Regions from separate parts of the Homo sapiens genome. Here region 2 is linked to region 1. A link means that fine-mapping ties the variant in region 1 to the expression of a gene that starts in the linked region. Tissue or cell type: whole blood. Region 1 holds a variant in brackets; the other region holds the start of a gene. All regions are shown on one strand. Distances are from middle to middle.

Region 1 (8,337 bases):
ATGCCACTGGAAGGACACAAGGGATAAGTATGGGATTGGAGCCCTTACCAAGGTCTTCAAAGGAATTTCAAGATCTGTGCATGGTGATAAATGGTCTGTATGTCTTGACTTTGGAGAAGGAGGCCTTTTGTAAAAATAGGAGCATAGTTTAATAATATAAACCTGAAGGCAGAAGGGCAAATCCCTGAAGAATATGATGATTTATACAAGTTAGAGCTTGCTGCCCAAGAAGAGCAAAATGATGCCCCAGGGGTCACCTCTGTGCTGGGCAGTTCTCTGAGGATGCAGTTGGGAGCTGGGAAATCCATCTGAGTGAGCACAGCACATGTCCATCCTCATCACTGCATCCCTGCTATTTAGGAAGGAGAAGACTTTCTTGTGGAAGCAAGAGCCAAAAAGTTGCTTCTCTCTGTGCAGCAAAGGCAAGATGAGAGAGCAATGGCTCCCAGCCCTTTTTAGTTAATGAATAGCTTAGAAACGAACCCATGTCCAGTGCAAAGCTCAAGAGAAGCCAAGGGAAGCAGAATCTGGAGGCAAACCTGACTGGCAGATCCCACACCAAATCCTCAGGTCCTCCTCGGTCAGCCAGCTCCCAGCCACTGGAGGGCGCCCCGAAAGTCTGAAAGAGGCAAACCCAGGTAAGCAGCCTTGTTTCCCCTGATTTCCCAGAGGAATCTGAAATTAGTTATTTCAGTCTGAGAGCATTTTGCACAGAAAGATCTATTCTTAATACAAATAAATGTACAATTAATAGATAAGTTCTGGCATCCTCTAGGAGCTAGATTTGGGTTATTTTCAGTCACAACTAGATTTAAATGTGCAACTGTGCTGTAAAACTTCTCTATTTTGTTTTGCAAAACTGCTCTATTTTGAGCCTAGACTTGCGCACTTGTGAGCTCACTGCAAGAGGGAGAGAACTCTTGGAAATGCAGCAAGGGCCCAAGTCCCTGCGAGTACACAGCCCCAATTGTTGGATTCTTGGATTCAGATTCTTAAATTGTTGTGCCAATGGTTTGACAGCAGGCAAATTGATGGATAGGCTTTATGGACAATAGTCAGGGTGGGAACAGAATTAATCAGCAATTATTTGTTTTATTACCTTCTCCCTCAAGATCAGAGCCTTCCTACTCTGAGCTGGCCTGAATGTCCTGTTCATGGATCCAGCTCAGCCCTGGGCACATGGCAAGTGGTGTCTGGCTCTTTTGCCTTCTACACCGTCTTCCCACTTCCTACCATCAGATACCCAAAGCCTCCAATGAACTCCCTCCTCAACTTCAGTTCCTTAAAGACAATCCACCTGAATCAATCTATTCACCCTGAACTGTTAGGACATGGCTCAAAACTTAGCCCAAAGCAAGCACAGAACAGTTGTTGGTTGAATCAGAGTCTCCAGTAAGCAAAGTCTTGGAACCTGTCACTTTCACAGCATGGCAGTGATTCCCACAATCGGGCAAGCTTGGGAAATTCTGATATGATACAGACACATTCATTCGGAATAATGGAAATAAAGGAATTGGGTAAGGGAGTGTGTTGGGACTGGAAAGAGTTCACTGATGCTTCTTAATCACTCAGATGTGATTGGGTGGGGAGAAGGATAGGAAACAGTGTGGAAGTCAATCACTCAACAAATCATGGATGCCTCTGGTGAGTGGGGCAAGAATGAAGGTGGAGTTTCCACCCAGAAAGGCCATACAATCTAGTAGAGCAAGCATCTAAACAAAACAGAAGGGGCTGGAAGAAAAGCTAGTTATGCCTTGGGAGCAATGCTTCTGGGGATGAGTCTGCCTTGGAAGAAAACAGCTGGAAATTGGTCCTGTCATTGTGAAATGGTGATTGCCTTCAAGGGAAATACCTGAGGAATGGCATGGCCATACCCATCCTGATGGAGGCGATCCAACCAGTCGCAGCCTTTCAAGAAAGTTTCACTCTGCTGAACCCTGAAAATAAGGCCTTGAAAAGCAAACGACCCACTTGTACATCAACCATCAGCTTAACCCCCTAGTGCCTCAGGTTTACCCACTAAATGTAGAGTTAATTCTACATTTAAAGCTGTTTGGATCACAGTTCACATTCAACTACGTAATTATTTATCATCACTAGCCTCTGAGACTATTTGAGAATTAAAGTAAATCCATTTATAGCACACCGTAAGACTCCTATAAAAGACAAAATGCATGAGTCATGTCCCTTGCTACCTGACAGAGGAACAGAAGCCTTTCCGAGTGAATATTATCCTGCGCCGAAAGCTTTCTTCCCTTAATCCCCTGAATTCAGAGCTGAAGCACTCACGAGTCTCTGTAACTTGAGTTGTGCTAACATGTTGAAGTGGTAAACAAGCAGAGTTACTCATCTCTTCCGAGGCCCATTTTTTTCTGTCTACATTCCAGCTCTGTCTTCTGAGCACATGGCTGACCACTGCATGGCCAATGGAGACCAGGGCTCTTTAGGAATAAGAATGAGTTCTTATGTGTTGAGTGTGAACAATGGGCCAGGAAACGTGCTGCAAGTGCTTCCAGCTATGTGATCCCATCTTCTGTTTCTTCATAGCACTGATGTCCCACTAACCCGGGGAGAGTCATCTCTCATTCTTCCTGGGCTCCAATCATCCCATCTGTAAAGTGAAAAGAGTAATTTTCAAACTGCCTCCACCCTTCAACCACAGGAAGCCTGAGTTGGTATGAAAAGCTTGGCTATCTTTCTGAAAGTGCCTTCTTCCCACACACCCTGCACACAAAGCTCAGAGCTAATTCTCATTCTTCATCTTCTGACCTAAGACTCAGAAGGAGCTTCTCTGTGCACCCACTGTTAACGGAGGGTGCCACGCAGTTCTAGGCTCTTGGTGTCCCGAATAAAGAATTGGACGAGACAAACAGATAGCAAAGCAAAGCAACAGAAGTTCATTAAGCACAGTATTACACTTTCAGGGCAGGAGAATGGACTGGCCTCTGTGAGATGAGATCAGCGTCAGTTTGGTGAAGTTTGAGTCTTTTTACGTGTTTTTTTCTTCTCTTCCCAAGGCTGCCTAATCTCTAGCCAGTGTCTGCCTTTTGATTGAGAGGTGTGTTGTTTAGTTACTTCGGCCTCCATGCACTTGCAAGCTGCCTCTATCCCATAATTTTAAGTACATGCATGATACGCAGCCCATATGCATGAATCTTAAGTAGCCAATTATCATACAGGGTTATGTGAAGGATACTTTTTCTCTCTAATGTGCATGCCTGTCTCTGAAGCGCTGCCCCTTCCTGGTTTGGTCCAGATCCTGCTGGCCATGAGGTCCTTGCTCACTTCTCTATCTTACTCTTTGTTTTGGCTGCTTAACATCCACCTCTTATCTTGCTTCTTGCTCACCCACCCCTTCATCTTGCTTCTGCTCTCTGTTTTTACTTATTCTGCCCTTTATCCAACTTTTAATTCCCTTTGCTATTCTCCTGCCTCATTTTCCCTATTCTCCTGCCTCACCACTGTTGTTAAGCAGAAAAAGGACCCTTGGTGTAGCTCCTGCTATCCAGGGCCATGGGCAATTCCTGGTCCTGCTGCCGTGGCACTCCTTTCCTTCCCTCACATAGCAATCTTGAAAAGCTGTGAGGGAACAACTTACTGTTACATAGTAGGCATTTAATAAACATTTGCTGAATGGATAAATTAATGAAGGTCTAAATGGATGGGTGGGGGTGGATGGACAGATGATGACTGGGAGATTGGGAACATGAGCTCTGGCCTGTGTCTTTCAAACAATGGAAATCTGGAAAGCTATTTAAACACTCTAGGACTGAATTTGCCCACCTTAAAAATGGCAGTGATAAAAGTTCCTACCTCAGAAGTTTGTTGTGAGGATTAAAGGAGACAATTTAGACAAATTGGTCAACACTGTGGCCAGTATTTTGTTACCTTTAATAAATGTCAACTACTTTTATTGGAATAGTGAGCACAGGTTATCTTATTACGAAGGAATTCTTGGCCGGGCACAGTGGCACATGCCTATAATCTCAGCACTTTGGGAGGTCGAGGTGGATGGATCACATGAGGCCAGGAATTCAGGACCAACCTGGCCAACAAGGAGAAACCCTATCTCTACTAAAAATACAAAAATTTGTTGGGCGTGGTGGCACACGCCTGTAATCCCAGCTACTTTGGAGGCTGAAGCAGGAGAATTGCTTGAACCTGGGAGGCGGAGGTTGCAGTGAGCCAAGATTGTGCCACTGCACTCCAGCCTGGGTGACAGAATGAGTGAGACTCCATCTCAAAAAAAAAAAAAAAATTAGAGTTCTTGAATCACTCTAAATCATGAAAAGGCAAGACATCTACAGAATTCAGTATTTTAGATCTAGAAGCACACTGCTGACTCCACACCCCTAGACCAGTCATTAGACACTGGTGGGTCATGAGGAAGCATTTGAGAACACTACCTGCGCCTTACACAGTGAGTGCTCAGGGAAGATTTGTCATATGAATGGATGGAATGAATTGCATGAGTGAGACAATGAATGAATGAACAAATGAATGAATGAATGGACAGATGGAAGAAATAAAAAGCATAGAAGGAAAAACAGATTGTCTAGCTCAATAGTTTCATTCAGGGGTAATTTTGACCCCCCAGAGGATATTTGGAAATATCTGGAGACATTTTTGGTTGTCACAACTGGGAGGTGCTCCTGGCATCTAGTGGGTAGTGGCCAGAGATGCTACTAAACATCCTATAATGCACAGAACAGCCCTCAACAGGAAACCAT[T/C]TTCCAGTTCAAGATATTAATGGTGCAGAGCTTGAGAAACCCTGGTCTAGTTCATTGGTTTTAAAACTCTGCTCTACCATAGAATGTCTGTCTGTCTCTCTCTTTCACATGCACACACACACTCTGTGTAACGTACGTGTGTGTTTTGAAATAGATCCTCCTAAAAGCTTGATCTCAGGACCACATTGTATGTTTATTATACTCTTTATGACAAGGGATTTACAGACACGTCACTGTAAGAAAAATCATGCTATAATGAGTTAAATTGAAATTCCCCATGGGAGTCACTTTTCTGAAAGGATGCAAGAGTTGCTTGGCTCTGACATAAGGCAACCACAATATCTGAATTTCAAATTGTTAAGGGGCCTTTTGGGTTGGGAAAGCAGGAAATTGCCTTATTAAAAGATAATTTAACCATAAAGTATTTTCTGCATAGACTCATTTAATAATAAAAGGATTTCAATGTTGTGAACATTCTCATTAGTAATTTGGAGATTTTCAAATAAACCAGCAGAAAAATGACAACAATTGGTTGTCTATGGGTCTCTTCTGCCACACAGTAGCCTGGGAATGTGTCTGTGGGTTAAATTTTAATCTGCAGATTAGAAAATTATAAATGACTAGCGTGGAAATTCATCCAAGAAAAACCTACATTACAAAATCATGGAGCTGCTGATTCAGTCCAGAAGCTGAGGTTTATAAGACACTATAATTTATTTCTGCCTGAATCCCTGCAGCAGGGTCTTCCTCCCTGACCAACACATGACCTTTGCTTTCTCCCTGGCATGGAAACAACCCCAACCCTACCCAAAAGTTTTTCAGCTCCTGCCCGACTCCCAATTCTCCATTTACCCACCCTCTCTCTTGTACTTTTCTTTGGTGGTCTTGTTTTTTAAGCTCCATTATTTAAAAGTTTATATACAGTAAAAGGCATGGATCTTAAGTCTATAATTGGATGTCATTGGACAGATGCTTTTCTCTTGCTACAATCACTCAAATCCAGACACAGACCATTTTCATGCCCAAGAAATGTCCTTTGTGCCCCTTTCCCAGTTAATACCCCCACCCTCCAGAGGCAAAGACTGTTTGGATTTCTATCACCATAAATTGGTTTTCCTAGATTTGGAATTGCACATAAATAGAATCATGCCTTAGGCCCTCTGCTGTGTCTGGTTTTTTTTTTGTTGTTGTGTTGTTTTGTTTTTTTTCCTCAACATTAACGCCTGTGAGATTTAGACGTGTCACTGCATATTTCAGTACTTCTTTCCTTTTTATTTTTTAATGGTATTCTATTGTATTGGGGACAATTATAAATAAGGTTGCCATAAATATTCTTGTACAAAACTCTTTTAAACAAACACATGCTTTTGTCACTCTTGGGCATTTACCGAGGAGTAAAATTGCTGGGTCCTAGCGTTGTGCATGCTCACCCTAACCTTGCACAATGAAGCTCCAGCCTGACTCCATTGTTTTTAGTCCCTCAGAAGTGTCCGCTCTCACCCTCTGCAGCTTCACACACCCTCCCCTCCCTTCACATGGGTAATTCCTACCCATCCTTCAGGTCCTGACTAAGATGACACGTCATGAAACCTTCCTTGATTTCTATGGAATCTATTAGATTTTTCTCTGCTTGAATTTCCCACAACACCCTGTAACATTGCAACATCCTGATGCAATGACATGTTCCTAACATCTGTCTTCATTCTAGCATCTAGCATCCACAGGGCAAATGCTGTACTGAACATTTTGAGCAAAAAAATAAAGAAGTATTAAATTATACTCCAAACTATAACAAAGATGTCCAGGAGTCCATACTAGTATAAACAAGTTATTGATTAAATAAGTAACTAAGGAAGAATAAACAAGTTTCTCGTGCCAAATTCCAAACAGTTTAAGTAGATATTTTGTCCTTAAGGAAGTGGAGCAGCATCACTCCCCTCTCCTTAAGCATGGGCTACACATAGTGACTTCCTTCCAAAGAGTACAGTATGGAGAGAAGGAGGGAAAAGGTAATTTTACAGTGGAGAAGCCTAACAAATAACGACAGCTAATTCAGTTAACACCTAGCACTCGACTTACACACGCCGAGTGCTTCATTATCAATCTGCTGGACAGATGGACAGATTGAAGGATGGGAAGATGAAGAGTCTTGGGGTGGATCAGCTAGACCAGTGGTCTTCAAACTGTTCTTTGTGGGACTCATGGCTCCTCACATCCCCTCAGAGACCATTGGGGTTAGGGGTGGTGGGAAGAGGAGGCCAAAGGGCCTGGCCACCAGGACCTCTTATCCAGGTTTGATCAGAACATCTTGTTCATTTTAATCTGTTTTATATACCACACATCCATGTAGTATTTCACTGGAAGACAACATACTTTTATTAAAAAACAGCTTTAAAAGTTACTGATCTAGTGCTGAGATCCTAGGGACAGGAAAGTAATGTGACTTAGTCAACTGGTCAGGGGTTTGGGGGGTATTAAACACATACAAATAGTCTTCACTTCCACAATAACTATGCTTTTGCTCATTTTCCTTGAAACACACAGCCCACTCAACTAATGCTCATATACCTGTTTTGATGGCATGGATATAGAGAAATGTTTATCCACAAAATGAAAATAAAGCAAAACTAAAACAAAAATAACTGGGCAAAAAATATTATAAGTAGTAACTGACATTCACCTTTAGTGTCAGTGAGACAATAGGGAGTGGTGGGGTTTGTGCCCAACTATCTAAAAGGGGCAGTTTCATTTCCATTTCAGCCACTTGCTGCCATGTGGTAATAATGAAGCCATCTAGGGTCAATGAAGCAATCTTATTGTCTGAGGTGTTGAGTTCTTTGTCTCACAACCAAGAAAATTAAGGAGCACGGACACCAAGGGTGAGGTTGGAGTGAAAGTTTAATAAGCAAAAGAGGAAAGCTCTCTGCAGTGGAGAGGGTTGCCATTTTACAGTTGAATATAAATGTTTTTATAAGAAATTGTCCTTGTCTATGTAGTGGCCTGTGTAACTGCCCTTATCTGTACAGCTGTGGACATGTCTCAGGCAAGCCTCCCCCGCCAAGAAAGTTCCCACGGAGCCACCAGGTACATGTCCACAAAAGGGGAGGAAACTTTCCTGGGAGTCCGCTGATTATACAATGAACAAAGGTGTTTCTATGTTGGGGCTTGTCCCCTTATCTGTGTAGCTGTAGGTTGATTTTTCAGCCTATTTCTCTGTTTAAAACAATTCTACCAGTGACCTGTCTTAACTGTCTGCCTGTTTTTTTCCTTTCTCCTGTCTCCATATGGATGGTGCAATCACATTTCTGAGTTTTCAAGGTAAGCCAGAAAACTGATTTGTGTGAGTGGAGTGTGTATGTGTGTGTGTGTGTGTGTGTGAGAGAGACAGAGAGATCCTAATTATTAATTTTGGTTTACACATTTAAACATATGGTGTAGGACAAACAAAAGCACATCTGTGGCTCATCTAGGGCTGAAAGCCAAGTTATAACCATAGTTTAATTGCTCAGTATTAAAAATGACAGGCCGGGCATGGTGGTTTACACCTGTAATCCCAGCACTTTGGGAGGCCACAGCAGGCAGATCGCTTCAGGCGAGGAATTGGAGA
Region 2 (8,337 bases), 76 kb before region 1:
AGGTCTCTAGTTTGGATAAATGCTATGTGCTTCAGCTGAAAAGCTCTTCAATGGCACTTGTGAATTTTAACTTCAATAGGAGACAGCAGCTTATGTGCCACCAAAGATTTGAGCCACCAAAAACAGAGTAGCCTTTGGTCAACCCACTGCTTCAGCAAGAAATAGGACAGCAGCCTCTCTGAGCCCACAAAACAGTCATTGCTCTAACTGTATTTATTAATAACAACAGCACCAACATGTACATTGCACTGTGCCTGTCTTATCCTTCTGCACTATGGTGAAGTGCTTAAGAAGTAAGGATTGGAACCAAACTGTCTGGTTCAAACTCCAGCTCAGTTCATTTCTAGCTGCTCAACGCTGGCCAAATCACTTCGACTCTCTGGCCTTCAGTTTCTCTCTAAAATGCGGATAAAAGTGGTTACAGGATGCAAATGAGCCAGATAGTTAAAATAAAGCTCCTCGGCACAGTGCCACACACAGTGCCTGCACCACAAAAGCAGGTTACTAGTATCTTCCCATTCTTAATCCTTGCTCCTTTTGTCAATTTGGTCAGCCTGGAAAAGTATCAGATTTGCCGGTTTTCACCCTGCCTGATGGGCCAGGGCTAATGGTCTCCAGTTGACGTTTTAGAGGGTTCTCCAGTCTCACTTCTCAGGGGAAAAGTGAAAGTGGCATCATCATAGAGAAGAAAAATCTAGAACGATCCACACTCCAAGTCAAGACAACATCTACCAGATAGGACAAGGCAGAGAAAGGGTGAGATAATCCTCAGAGGAGGACTTTGGCTCCTAAAATCCCCAAATAGTATTTAGCTGGAAACTTCAACCACTTCATCAACCAAAAGTTTCAGAAGAAACCAAAAGAAAGCTTTTTCAGGATCTGGGGTCCTCCCTACTCTTCACTGTGTTTCTCCCTCTTGTGGAAGTGCTAGTACACAGACATTGGCCACAACGAGGATGAAAAAGGAAGTAATGGATGGAACAGAAAAAATTGCCCAGGCTGCAAAACTCAAATCCAGCTTTGTGAATAAAAAGCTGTTTTTTCTGAATCTGCCATGGAGAAATGGTAATCTCAGTGAAGACAGCTAGATGATTATATTGGAACCTTTATAGAATGCCTCATGAGAAGATGGTTACATGTAAACTTCACAATTAGAATCTGCTAGAACTCATACGCCTATCACATTCCACTCTATCCTAGTAATAACTACACCAAAGACCTTTAAGGATGTGTTGACCTCCTTCGTTTCTAAGTCAGTCTTGATTCATCTTTCTCCTCCTATCAAGGCCTCCAGAAAATGCATCTGGTAGCTCAGTGAAGACATTTGCTCTGAGAAAATACTTGTTCCTATGGATGGGACACAGTCTTGCATGGATGGGTTTGTTACTTCTGAGGGATCCACCCAGTACAATCATCAAGTCAATCCAGAAACTCATACAAATTTTAAAATTTCAAGGCCAGAGGTAATCTCATCTCTATTTCATAAAAACCAGTAGGGTTTTTATTTGTTCAGAAAAGTCTCCTTTACTTTTCTGAAAGGAGTCTGTTTCAAATCTGCTTCTTTAAAAATGTATAACACTCCTCAATACCTCCAAGAAAAAAAAAAAGTCTGCTGTGCAGACGGGAAGGTGAAAAGAGAAGAATTCATATTTATTCACTGTAAAAAGTTGGGGTGGTAAATTAAATCTTCACATCCCTTTTGATCCTATTATATTTTTAATGGCAGAAGCTCCCAGCGAGGGCTCGAGTGGGATGCAATAGAAGTTTTAACATTCAAGGGAGCAGATGAACTTGCCTCGGTTTGTGTGACTGAATGAGAAATTACCCAGCGCAGCTCTGCTCAGGGCAATAGGTCCCTTTGCCTGTGCTGGATTTGGGTCAAACAGCTAAACCTCAAATCAGAAAATATCAGCATCATTTTGTGGGGACACAGAAGTGTGGGTAACAATAATGATAATCAAACCTGATCAAAGATGCCATTTCCTGAGCAACGGAGCCAGTTGCTACACTCAAAAGTCCATTATTTAGAGGGTGACTGTTCTACGCAAAGATCTATCACACTCCCCTGGGACACAGACTTCTCAAACCAGCTTCATCGAATATGAACTATATCATCAAGAAAGGGTCTGGTTATTTTCTTCCATCCCCTCTTTTGATTCTAGGTATTGATAAAATAAATTGACTCCTTAGTCCTATTAGGAAGTTCTGGGAATGTTTCCTTGACGAATTTTCTTCACTCTGGCTCATCTAAATTAGAATGTTTGTATTAAAGATAAATGAGAAAAAAATTAATGAGGTCGAATGAGAAGGTTTATAAAGATTTGTGAAAGGCACATGGAGCTCAGACATCATTAAAGAGCAGAACTCATTCTCAAGTTTCCTATCCAGCATGATATCCACTGCTATCTCTGTGGCCACAGAGCCTGGGAGTGGCAAAGTGGCTTCTCACTGAGGAATCGGACAGGCATGTTTCTATATCACGGTGAAAGGAAAAGAAAAGGAAAAAACCCCAGACAGCAAACAGAGATTGTGACAAAGATAACCACAAGGAATGTAAATAAAATATGATAAGCAGCTCACTCACCATCTCATCCTCAACAGCTCTCTCAGAGGCAAAAGTAAAAACATATAAATTATGTGTTTTCAAGGAGAGTCAAGCAATACTCTTTGGGAAGAAGCCACGGATATAAAAAAATTTTTCCGCATTTGTCTCACTTCTCTAATCTCAAGGCTTGAGATGTATGTACTTTCAAAAGAGACTCATCGAAATTTGGGCAGCATGAAGTTGAGCCCCCTGTTGGTAAGGACCTTCCAACAGTGACTCGGTCTTATTGGTGATAAGCCCTGTTTATATGAGCTTTCAAAAGCCTAAAAACAGGTTCTTTCAACATGACACCTTGAAATAAAATAAACGCATTGCAAACACCAACTGCAATAAACCAGGCTCACGCCAAAATGCACACGTGCACATTTCACAAAATAAGGGGGAGACATTTCTAGTGAGGAGCAATCTCTATGGGAAGGCAAGCGAGAGCGCCCACCTGCCAAGGGTCACATGCTCCAGAGCGCACAGGATTCCCTAAGTGAAACAGGCCGGTAGGAAGAACTTGAATAGTCAAAAATCTACAAACTCTTCAGAGGTACAGATCATCAGGCCATAAAAGCCACCTCAAGGAATTTTGGTCACATCTCTCTAAGGACTTCCAAAAGCTACCCTCTGCACTTGAACAGGAAACCTGCCAGCTCCCCTCAATCATTCTGCTCCTTTGGAATAGAAGTTACGCCTTTAACCGAAGGAGAACTTCAAATGCGCCACTGGTATCTGGTGCCACTGCCAAAATATATTTACATCACCTTCTATCAGTCATTCAGAGCCCAGTGCTGATATTCTCTTAGTAAGACAAGGAGGGGGTTAGGAGGTTGGTCATCCACCTCCTCATCTGCAAGGCTAAATGCAGGTTTTCTTGTTTATTCTACTTGAGACCCTGGGGAACTGGTCTGGTGTCTCAGGCTCTGATAAATTGAACACACTCCCCGCAAATCATGGCCCAGGGAGCTTTGGAAAGGAGCTGTGGGGCATCTGTTTCTGCTAAATGCAATGCCCTCTGCGGGTTGTTCCTCTGTATGAGGACTCCTAGACAAAGGTTAGCCTCTCCCTGCATCTGAGAAACTGTGCTTGGGGCTGTAAATGTTCATTGAGAAGCCTCCAACCTAGCCAGGGCCTGGCCTCATTGTCCTAAGTCTTCAGATGCACTCAGCCTCCAATGGTGCTGTATTTTACCAGTTAAACACGTCTTCAAAGTTTACTACGAAACAATGTGGCTCCTAGCTTGCCAAAAGTTTAACTGCAGGATTCAGTGGATTTTATCTGGCAGAGTAGCTGCCGTGACTCTTGACAATATTTGCCAGCAAAAGGCAGTCCTCAAACCTTGCAACCAGGGCAATCCCAAGGCCCAACGTGTCACTGAAGGAGTTCTTCTGGGAAAGGTCCCTCTTTCTCTTCAATCGCCTCCCGCAAATCCCCAGCTTCCAGAATCCAATTCAAGGCAGTCTGGCATTTCAGGAGACAGCAGTAAAAAACTTTTGATGGGATAACCCAGGACATAAATATTCCTGGCTGAACCTACTTTTGATTCTTAAATATCTGAAGGAGCTTGGGTTTAAGGAAGATAAAGGGAGAGAACCAATGAATAGGGAAAAATAAAATAAGTAGCATACCATGACCAAGCCAAACCAAGCTTGATATTTCCACATTATATTGGCAAATGGATGCTTTCACATATCACTTGTTCTGTCTTTCCTGGTGACCACAAAAAAAAAAAAAAAAAAAAAAAAATCTGGCTTCAAAAATCCTAACCCCAGACCACTGCATTGTGTCAGTGGAATGCAATCTAAATTGCCAGTCAGAAAGTCCAACCTTATATGTACCAACCAACACGCACACAAGCACCTCCAAGCCAAAAGTTGTAACGCCTGAACCCGTGCGTTTATCAATTTCATCATCCCCATACCCCTGCCGGGTTCCTGGCGCTGGGTAAACCGACAGCATCATGTTGCCATCGATGCGTCTTACAAGATGGTTTTGGGCAAATCCCCTAAAGTAGGCAGAAGCAAAAACTAGGTTCCTCTGCCCGGGCACCTCCTCCTCCAGGCTGGCCCCCGGCTCCCGGGTGCCCCTTACCTGCAGGCGCTCCGTGGCCGGCTGCCACATCTTCCAGCCCTGGGTTTTGGCAGAGGAGACGCTGGCGAGACTGTCGATCGCGCCGGGGGGCGAGGGGCTGGGGTCCCGCTTTACATCTGGGGTCGGTGTCCGCGGGATGTGCGTCCTGGCGCTGGCCACCGCCGCCGGGTGGGCGTAGGGGGCTGCGAGCAGGAGGAGGCGCGGCGCTCAGCTGCCGGCAACTTGTGGGCACGGCCGCGCGCCGGCTGTCCTGGCGCAGCTGCGAGAGGACTGCGCAGCTCCGCCCGGGCCCGGCGAGCGCGCGGCGGCGGCGGGGGCGGCCGCTCCCTCCTCCCCCGCCGCCGCCGCCCGGACCTGCGCGCTCTGAGCATGCCCGGGGCGGGCGCCCAGGGGCCGCGCGGGGCGGGAGTGCAGCGCGGCCGACTCTAAATCCTAGTGAGGGGTGAATGGGGAGGCTAGAACAGCCGGCCCTTCCCTGCAGGAAGCCCCCATTGGGTTGGGGTCTGGGAAAAGGGACAGACTGGCTGAGGGGGGAAGGGCCTGGAGCCGGGGGTGGTGGGGGCAGCGGGGATGTCGGGGGTGGCGGGGGTGGGGGAAATTCCTAAAATAAGGAAACCGTAGCCCCGGGGGTCCCGGGTTTCCATATAACAGGCATCTCTGAAGTGCCTGTGCTGTGCCTGGCGCTGTGCTAGGGAGACACTTCCATTCATTCTTCCCACTCCAGTTAACTGAGCATCTATTAGGCTCCAGCCCCTATGCTGGGTTCTGAGGATGCAGCGACGCAGAATAGAAGACAAGAGAATGTTCCTTCTCTCTGGAGCTTACCTTCTGCTTTGGAGAGAGAGTCGTGACTGAGCAAACACATCAACAAGCCGGTGCTATATCGGGTGGTGATAAAACAGGGCAGATGTGGGAAGAAGGGGAGAGGAGAGCTTCTTAGACAAGGGCCCTGGGGAATGCCTGGAGTAAGACCTGAGAGATGAGAGGGATTGGCCACGAAGAGGCCATGCTTCATGATGGGGAGAGGACTCGACTCCTAACCTATACAGGGGTGAGGAGGGCCATGCAGACTCCCGAATCACTAACTCATCCTGAGATCTGCCAGGTGCAGCAGGAGGCTCTCAGAACCCAAGGGAAAGCCGCTCTGGGCTCGCAGGCCTGGAGGCTCCCCGGCTAGTGCCGGCCACCATGAGATGACTTCCTGTCCTAAACAGGCCAGCCCTTCCCATTCTCTTGACAACTCGGCAAAATAACTATTAATATTTTCACCATGTGGATCAAACAAATGAGGCTTATAAGGTTTAGGTCACTTGTCCAGGTCACACAGCCAGTGAGTGGCTTAGAGAGTGCACAGTCAGATGACTTCAGGGCAGGAGATGTGGCCCTGCGCCTCTAACTGACCATGGAAACCCAGTGGAAAGAGCATCCGTCTAGGGCTGGGGGTTAAAGGCACTTGGCAAGTCAGGGATACTAAGCTGATTCTCGAGCTGATGAAGAGTGGGAGAGGAGAACATGGTGGGAAGAACTCAGGACATAGAATGACCAAAGAGAGGAGCAGAGAGAACACAATGTTTGTGGGGAGCCCTAGGCTCCTACAAGGCAGGGTCCTGAGAGCAGAGGGGTGTGAAAGAGAGGCATTTCATACTGAGACAGCTGCACAGCTTGGGCCGTGAGCTACTCATGCAATGTCAAAATCCACACTCCATGTCTGGAAGGAGGATCTGTCCATTTTCCTTGTTCTGCATGACTACAATGATTTCCAGATATGGAACCACTCCAGAATCTAACCCTCAGCTCATCGGACCCTCGCAGCAACTCTCCGTGGGACAGAAGCCCCTATCTCCCAAGGCTTGGGGAGCACAGGGTTCACAGAGTCACACTGTGGGGAGTTACAATGGCGATTCAGATCCAGGATTCCAGGCAGATCCTTCTGGACCCTGCGGTTGCTATGTTGGTGCCACCAGCCTTGGCAAGCCCAGGACCCTCAGTGCCTCTAGGAGCCTCTGGCAAAGCCACAGAGCTGCCTCTGAAGAGCTTGTCTCTGTCTCCCTGGATATCCACAGGACCCTCCCACTCCTGCCTGATAACCACCTGAACCTTCTCAGCTCCTTCTCCAGTTCCTGCTACTTGTTCTGAACTTATTAATAAATCTCTTTTCATGAGGTGTTTGCCTGTCAGCCCGCACAGACATGTGCCTCACATGCTTGGTGATATGGTCTCTGTTTGCTTTTCCGGTAACTCCTCCTGCACACCTCCACACCTACAAAATTCCTTATGACCTTCCCAGCCCCCAGTTCTCTTTTATCAAATCCCAAAGTAGAAAGAAATGCAATTCATTACAAAAATCTAGAAAATCCAGACATGCATATAAACCCCACCCCCCAACCCCCCCAGGAAGCTAAAACAGGAATATTCAGTTGCCAGGGATGTCTTCAGACTTAAGCTCTGAAACCATCCTTGCTTGCAGATGCTTCCGTGGAAAAGTGATTTTGTTTTAAATAGCAGTGGAATGAGTTAACGGCCTAAATTCAAATCGCATTAGAGCGTTAAATCCTGTCTTCTCACCTCCAAACGTAATTAATTGTTATGACTCAGTAATACAGCTTTTAGTACGGAGTATGGTGCTATTTAAAGAGAAAAAGCTTTGGCTCTGTAAAGATTGCTTTCAGTTACCGTTCCCACTTTGCAAACAGATTTGGTAAAGTAAAGAATGTATTTAAACTCAAATGGCACTCCTGTTTCAATTACCTTTATGCCACGAATCAGGAAGCTAGGGGAGGGGGTGGAGGAGGGGCAATTGCAGGCTTGTGGGAGGTGACAAAAGGATGGGACAACCTCCCACTCATAGATTTTGCTCCCAAGTCTTCCCATTCAGGAGGAGCCTGCAATGAAGGGTGAATGAAATAGAGACATCTGCTGGCTAGAGATGAGACCTGCATGCCAATGTCTCCCAGCTCTGTTCTGTGACATTGGAACCTCATCCTTCCTGGTGAATCTGAAAATGCTGCCTTACGATGTAAACAGGTTTGTTCTGAGCAAGAAACCACCCTTAAAATGAGCAGAAGGTGTTTTGGTGCAATGAGTAGAAATATTAGGCATGTAAATGTGTGCCTAATTTCATGTACTTAGTCTCCTGCAATTACCGAAACAGGTCTAATCTTGTCAATAAATACCATTTGAAGGCAAATGACAGAAATCAAAAAAGCTTGACAAGGCACAGATGCGTTATTCACACATTTGGTTCAGAAAAATAATTACAGCATCCCTAGAAATTGTGTTAAGCCAGATTTGATCTAGTTCATGGTTCTGAGCCCTAGCATAAGCAACCTCAATGTCCAAGTCAGAGTAATGGTGAATGAAAGTATGGTCCAGCATATCAAAGAAATATTAAAATATTATGCAGCATTTAAAAGGATAATTATAAAGTTGTGTTGCAGCTGAAAATGATACAATTATGGTTTTTAAAGTAGGATAAAATGTATATAATTTGAATATATGTATAAAATATTTATCAATCTCAGTAAATGTTGGAAAGGAGCTAGGACAAGCAGAAGACTCAGGTTGAATCCCAGCCTTCGAACTGTCTACCTAGGTATCAGCTTTTCACAAGTCATTTGCCTTGCTGAACCTCAGATTTCTCTTCTATAAAATGGGTG

What was found.
Region 2: PID1 starts here. The variant in region 1 is fine-mapped to the expression of PID1 in whole blood (TOPMed, PIP above 0.99).

What each region holds. Positions count from the first base shown.
Region 1 is chr2:229,341,988-229,350,324 of GRCh38, forward strand. No RefSeq gene overlaps it. Among named protein-coding and RNA genes, the nearest start is that of PID1, 75 kb to the left of the region's middle. The variant T/C (reference allele first, on the strand shown) is at 4,731.
Region 2 is chr2:229,266,333-229,274,669 of GRCh38, forward strand. It overlaps PID1 (phosphotyrosine interaction domain containing 1), which reads right to left and starts at 4,955. Exons shown (of 3, transcript NM_001100818.2): 1 at 4,682-4,955. The coding sequence starts at 4,711.